2 linked regions of the Homo sapiens genome follow. The protein of the gene in region 2 interacts with the protein of the main gene of each other region in a pairwise test. Each region holds a gene or a part of one and is shown on either strand. Other genes may lie near its edges.

The links. The genes of interacting proteins can lie anywhere in the genome.
Region 1: the proteins of ZNF662 (region 2) and NDEL1 interact in binary tests that used the Homo sapiens proteins (3 or more experiments, as listed by UniProt).

The regions. Positions count from the first base shown.
Region 1 is NC_000017.11:8,463,234-8,466,883, reverse strand, and holds part of NDEL1 (nuclear distribution protein nudE-like 1), read right to left. Parts: intron 3,565-3,650; coding exon of another isoform or gene 3,530-3,564; intron 1-3,529. UniProt on the Homo sapiens protein: Required for organization of the cellular microtubule array and microtubule anchoring at the centrosome. May regulate microtubule organization at least in part by targeting the microtubule severing protein KATNA1 to the centrosome.
Region 2 is NC_000003.12:42,904,580-42,908,329, forward strand, and holds the start of ZNF662 (zinc finger protein 662), read left to right. Parts: upstream 1-1,562; 5' UTR 1,563-1,589; exon of another isoform or gene 1,590-1,772; coding exon of another isoform or gene 1,773-1,862; intron 1,863-3,442; coding exon of another isoform or gene 3,443-3,535; coding exon 3,536-3,569; intron 3,570-3,750. UniProt on the Homo sapiens protein: May be involved in transcriptional regulation.

The DNA of each region.
Region 1 (3,650 bases), on a different chromosome or scaffold from region 2:
AACTCATTTAAAATCACTCACACACAATAGGAAATTAATCTGCTTTCTAAAACTATTCCTCGCAGGCTGTAGGGTCCTGATGGCCCAAGGGGCACTGGCTGCCTGGAAAGCACCAGCTGGTTAGAGAATTGAGCCTTTGGGAATCCTGGGGAACCAGGACCACATGACCTGTTTGGCAACTGCCGCACACTGGCCACGGAAGCCACAGTCCTGATTCTTTCCCCATAAAGCAGGTCTAAATGCCTGGCAATAGGGAACTAGTTAAATAAATAATGGTACAACTGAACAATAAGATATTGCACAGCCATTAAAAACACATTCCACAAGTTTTTTAATAGCATGGGAAAATATTCAGAATGTAACTAACACTAAGTGGAAAAAGATGCAGGTTACCAAACTCTGTAGATTCAATGATATGAAAGAAAAAAAAGCAAATAGTATATATTCTAGATTCTAGACTATAGCCCCTTAGATAGACATTACTATCCATGCAGCTAAATCCACAAAGCAGGGACAGAGGGGGAGTGTGTATAAATAAATGTATATATACATACATTATATATACGCATACACATATATATATACACACACCAACATATATGTACATAGGATCATATATATCATAAAAAGAAAATTTAAGAATCGTTACTTTTCTTCCCTCTGGGCTGTGGGTGAATTTTGTTTACTACTTTATCCTTTTTTAATCATTTTCCAAATCTCCTTACATTTTCCAAATATAATGTATTAATACACGAATATCTTAATAAGGTGGAGAAAAATAACCTTTTAAAAATTGTTTAGCAAGCAACGCCAGATGAGTAGGCTTTTCAACGCAGACTCGTGTGCAGACAGCCCAGCCCAACCCAATAGCCTGCAGCCAGGACCCAGCACCCGGAGCCCAGCGACACAGGGAGCCCCCCAGCGTCCCCATCACGCACCCAGAGCCCAGCGATGCAGGGAGCCCCCCAAGCATCCCCCTCACGCACCATGCAGCGCAGCCACAGGAAGCAGCAAGAGGGGGAGGGAGTGTGCAGCCTGGAACCTCTCTCAGGAGCCACTTCAGCCTTTCCACCTTGAAACGCTTCCTAGGAAAATTTGTCCCACTAGCAATTTGGGAGATAAAGCCAACTACGACAAGGGGCCACACTGCACCACACCTGCCCACTACTGCCCCCACCTACTCATCAGACGGCTCCAGGGAGCTAAATACAGACTCATGGAGAGAGGTTCTCCTTAAAAAAAAAAAATGCCGACACACACTCCCTGCAGAGACAGCTGTTTCGTACACTGACGGGGTGAGGATAACCTCACAGACAAACAGGCATGCAGAGACTTGACAAATAGTCCCTGCCTACTTGGAAGAAACAAAGTTCATGTCTAAAGAAACTAAACTCAGAGTACATATGTGGAGTTTAAATTCCAACCACGCATACAGAGACCAAGAGCCCCAGGAGAAAGGCTCTGACAAATGTCATTTCTCCCTGTTGCACACTGTCCTACTTCGACGACAAACAGCCAGATTGTCTCTTTCCTCACTGGGTTAGGTCTGATTTTTGAGCTTCAACACATTTGCAAGTTTGAAATCATCCTTCCCACTCTCCCAAGGTCACAGGCCTGTGCCTCTTCTGGGGCCAAGGCCATATCCTATTTGCCACGGTAGCCCTCATATAATAGGCTCCATCTGTCTGGCTAGTCCCAGAGTCCCTGACACCTGCTTCTCCTAGAAACCTCAGGGACAACCAGGCAGGCCCCACAAATGCCTGCAGCTCTCAGCACGTGTGAACCTCAGATTCCTGGCCTCACACATCACAGTGGCAGGCAAGCCCCTAAACCTGTACTGCAGACAGTGCCCGGAACCCAGCAGAAAGGGAGCACCATTGGATGCCAAGAAGAATCTGGCACCTGGGCCACGGGGGTGTACAAAAGCAGCAACTAGGAGATGGCTCCTCAAGCAGGTTGAGGATGGGATTCTGGCATTTTCAAGTGCACCGTAAGGAACAACAGGTTCATCCCACTGTTCCACTGCCAAGACAACCAAAGCAAGAGAAGGTCCAGCCATTAGCCTAGGCTCACCTAGTGAGCCACTGATGGGGAAGTCGGGGCCACAGCTGCCTCCAGATGCCCAGGCCAGGACCCTTTTCTAGTCTCCTCCTGGTCAGAGGCCACCTAGCAGCCCTCAGAAGCAACCACTTCGGCACTCCAATGCAGGCCGGCTCTAATGGGAAAAGTAAGTGGTGCAGCCCAGACTATAAAGAGAGAACCGGTAAATTTCTACATGGGCAGAAATGGAACGCTTAATGTGAAGGTGGGTGGAGTAGAGAGGGAACATCAATCCACCAGGGTCTCACCTAGCGCCTCTCTCCTGACTCAAAAAGTAGAAAGTTAAAGAACAGAGAGAGAAGAAAGCTGGCCTTCTAGATGGGATGACAGGTCTAGTGAAGTCCTTCAGAGGCCTGCAAAGCTGTGCATGGGGAAAAGATTTGCAAGAGAAGAGACTCTATATTCAACAGATTCAGTTTCAGGGAGCAGCAAAGAGCCACAGGGCAATGTCCCAGTGCACAAGACAGGACTGAAGGAAGAGTGATGGGGCAGGCTTGAAGATACAGATCTGGGAATCATATATGTAAAAAAAAGGTTCCAGAGCTATAAAATTTCATGATCTTACCACCACAGACTAGTTAAGGAGGCTGAAATATAGAGAATCCAGCTAAGAAAAAGTGCTAAGGTCAGTTGTAAAATGTCAGTGGAAGAAGTGAAAAGGGGGAAGAGCCAAGGCACACTTAGAAGCTACTCAGGACAATAAATCCAAAGCAGCTGAGATGAAGGATGGAAACATTAACTCTGTCAAAGCAGCAAGGATCAGGACACTGGAGAGGGCAGGAGGGTGGGCTCAAGCTATCCAGAAGAGCCTGCAGGCAGGCACACGCCACACCTGAGTCTCCTATTTCAGTGGATGAGTGTGGGCTCAGAGCAGCTCCAGCCTGCTCCAGTTCTCAGCCCAGGCTCTGCAAACTGCAAAGCAGTTCTGAAATGTAAGGCAGATCTTACACACGTCCCCATGTACCATTCCATTTTAACTGGGGACTCCATGCGTGAGCGCAGAGGTGAGGGAATGCTCACACTGGTGCCTGACTTGAGAAAACAGAAGCAACTGGGTAACGGGAAGACCCCCAGTCCCAGGAAGACAGTCAAAGGTGATCCCAGGGCCTGACAGTGACCTCAAACCCCCATCGCCAGACTCTGAAATCAACACTACAGCGCCCTAGCCCATCTCAGGCGTGCCACCTGGCATGCTACTCCCAGCCACCCCAGGACCACTGCAACTAATTTGTTCTTGTTTCTCACAGCTGAACTAATAACGGCATACAGTCAAGTCGAACAGGACCGTGAAAGTTCACTGATGGGCTGTAAGTTGGTTAAAGCTGAGTCAGCCCCATGCAGTTAGTAAAACCAGATTGTTAATGTGTCTTCCACCACACACCAGGATTAAGAAAGAATGAAAAAGAGCACAGCAAACAAATTCAGTTACCCATGAACAACGTGGGAAATATGACTTTTTCTTGCCTAATAAAAGAAAGGAGAACATATTAAACAGTAATACGAATACTATTTCCACATCACGCCCTAAAATTAGTCCATGCCCACCTACA
Region 2 (3,750 bases):
TTTTTGTAGAGATGGGGTAGCAATTTGATTAAAAACTATCAGATTCCCTACTTTTTCCCATACTACTTCCAACTTAGGACCAAACAGAGAAAGCCAAAAATTTCCCCCTACCAATTACATAAGATTCCCTGCTTCTAGTTAGCCCGCCTGTAGTTTCCCCATGCCAGCAACTTCCAATAAGGGAATACCTGAAGCCATTCCTTTTTTCCACTGTGAAGCTTTCCCCACTCTTCTGCCTGACTTTCAGTCTGCTGAATGCAAGTGATGAGGGCTGACTCTCTTGTCATATATAGCAAGCTCTGAATAATAGTCTTTGTTCTCATTTGAATAATCTTTATTTTCACACTTCTTAAAAAATTTAATTTCCTGGCATGTTGCATAATGTTAGGTAAGCCATTTTCTCTCTTTGGGCCTTACTTTCTTCAACTGAAAAACTGGTTCAACATTTATTCATTCTTTTATTCCGTAAGCCAAAAATAAAATTCAAAGCCCTCTGACCATATGAATGGATCTCTCCTCTTGGCTAAGGGCATTCCAAAGTTAACGTGAAAAACTGGTTCAGGCCATAATGGGAAGGAGGAGTTGGACATGGCTCATTATGCTCCCCTACCTTTTGAAATTCAGGACCAGCTGACCAGCATTAACATCAACACAGACCTTAAGACTGATAGAACAGCCTCTTTAAGTCTCACAGACTATCCGGTAGTGTGATAATGATGAGAAACATTTGCAGTCTATTCTCTGAAGCCTGCTACAGGCTCCATCTGCATGATAAAACTTTGGTCTCCACAAGCCCTTATCTTAACTGAGACATCCCTTTCTATTGATTCTAAGTCTTTATACAATAACTTAACTCTTTCAACCAATTGCCACTCAGAAAATCTTTGAATCCACCTATGTCCTGAAAGCCTCCTCTTCCAGTTGTCCCACCTTTCCATACCGAACCAACGTACATCTTACATGTATTAATTGATGTCTTATGTCTTCCTAAAATGTGTAAAACCAAGTTGTAGCCCGACCACGTTGGGCACATGTTCTCAGGATCTCCTGGGGCTGTGGCACGGGCCATGGTCACTCATATTTGGCTCAGGATAAATCCCTTCAAATATTTTACAGTTTGACTTTTCGTGGACAATTCTACAAATATTCCTTGGCAGTTAAAGAAATAACTCCCCAGGAGGTGCTAGACATCGGGCGCATGTTAGAGGCACAAAGATGAGAATGTTAAAAGACATAAAATACAGGTCTGCTCTGGGAATGCAAAAACTGGTAAAAGGAGAGATAAAAGAGCAGGTGCAGTCTAGTGAAGTACCCGCTACCTCCTATCAGCAAATATCTGTCCACCTAGGGTGCAGCGAGCTGGAGAGGAAGGGGTGGCCTAGAGCGCAGGGGAAGGATTCCTCCCCAGCCGCCTGCACCCCTACCCCGGTAGCGGTCCCTGGGATCGTCCGTGTCTCCAGGAGAACCGGACCGCTCTCCCCTCCCTCCCCGAGCGAGAAAGGAGGACCACAGAGATGCGGCGCCCTCCGCCGTCCTAGAGCAACCGGAGCGGCCCGAGCCCCGGCCTCCCGGATGCTGGGGCCTGGCGGGTGTGGAGCACGGGGAGTCGGGCGTGGGGCGGGCAGGGAGTGGAGTCGGGGTCTTACTCCGGTGGCTGCAGGGCGCAGGGTAGCCGTGTCAGGCCTGCCCAGGTGCAGAGCGCTCTTCCGCGACCCCAACAGCCTCTGGTCCGGTCTGGCGCGCCCTCGCTTTCCCAGAGGGCGACCTGGGCTATGGCGGCCGTGGCGCTGGCGAGCGGGACACGCCTCGGCCTTGTCCTCGAGCTGCTCCCGGGACAGCCCGCGCTGCCCCGGGCGCGCCGGGTGAGTGCGGGGCCGGAGCCTGGAAGCAGTCTTGGCCCTGCCCTGGGTTCTAGGCCCGGAGACGGGGTGGTGCGGCGGCTGGGAAATGGGGGTACAACCCAGAGTGAGGGGCCTCGAGGGACAGGCAGCACAGCGGAGTCGACACCCCTGGACCTGAGCCTCAAGGAGAGCAGACGTGCAGCGGCACGGGGTTGAGCCGACTGCTGGGGCAGAGCGCACAGAGTGCTGTCGGGGGCGATGAATGGCCAGAATTTCAGAGCTGCCTTTACAGAGCTGGTTATGTTTGAGCTGGGTATTAGGTTGAAAAGGAATTTGCAATGCAGGAGCAGGAAGGAAGAACTGGATATTCAGGCAAGAGTAGCCGCAGGTGCAAGGACACAGAACAGGGTGAGGAAAGAGTTTGGTTTCCCAATGCAATGGTGAGAGGATCGGAGATGAGAGTGGTGGTGGCTGATGATCCTGGCCAGGAAAGCTGGGTCTGTGAGTAGTGAATGGAATTGTCTGTAGTGCAGAGGAATGTGGACTCTATTAGGCAGACAAAGTTGAGCCAGCCAAAGCCTTGGAGCCCTGGAGTGCTGGATAAATAGCTGTGGAGACTTTCTAGTGCGCAAGGACTGAAGTGCAGTGGACCAGAATGGGCTCCTCCACAGTGTGGAGACTGAGACCCTGAAGGAGGCAGTGGCTGAGAATTACGGGAAGTCCCAACGGCTGGAGGTCAGCAGTATTTGTTTCTTAAGAGGATGAGAGAAAGAAGGTGCAGGAGCTGAGACTCCTAGAGATATAGAAAATGGGGACATGGAGATTGGGACGTGGGTAAGCAAGTGAGGTGGGATCTTTGTGAGAGTGTTGCGGGTGGTGGGGGTGCAGGGAGTAAAGTCACAACGAGGATCTGCCCTGTTGAGTACAGTGTTCAGAGCAACCTGAATGTTCTGAGGAGCCCTAGCTGCCTCTGTGGCTGGTGGCAGTGACTGGGGAGGACAAAGGAGGAAGAGTCCTATACAGGGGCAGCAGGGATGGCAGGAATGGGGACGGAAGGCAGTGTGGCATAACAGGCAAGAGCCAGAGTCAAACAGGCCTGGGTTCTGTCTCAGTTCTGGAACTTTGGGGGAAGTTAATCCCTCCGAGTCTCAGTTTCCTCTTCTAAAAAACGGATCTGATAGTAGGCTATGAGACATAACAAAGAATATATGTCAAGTGCTTGGCACAGGCTTAATAAATGATAGTTGTTATCAAGGGTGGGTGACCTCTGAAGGAGGACACATTGTGGAGAGAGGATGGGACCTAGAGCACAGATGTGGTTTGGGGTATAAGGATGAAACAAGAAAACTTTTGCAGACTCATGAAAAAGAGGAGAAAATGTTTGCTGAAATAAAGATGAAGAGACATGAGAAAATTGATGGCTGATGCCTTGTCTCTTTGTACATAGGAGGCAAAAATCTTCTGCTGATAGAGTTCCTGTAGACATTCAGAATCCAGAATCCCCACAGGCACCCCCACAGTACCTTTTGATGCCCTGTCTCCCCTTCCTCTTGGCCTGGTCCTGGGGTTGTCCTAGGGCATTTAAACACATGTTGTTTCAGGAGTCAGTGACCTTCGAGGATGTGGCCGTCTACTTCTCTGAGAACGAATGGATCGGCCTGGGCCCTGCTCAGAGAGCCCTGTACAGGGATGTGATGCTGGAGAATTATGGGGCTGTGGCTTCCCTGGGTAAGGGTCTCTCCCTTTGGGCCCTGCCTCCACCCTTGAGAGTTTGCTGGCTCCTTTTTTCTCAAAGGCTCAGGAGTTGTTGATAACCCTCAGCTCAATGGCAGCTTCAGGCTCTTGGATTTTTAATGACCTAACCTCAGCAGCCGTTGGAAAGTAGGAAGTCCTGGTATCAGTTTGGGCC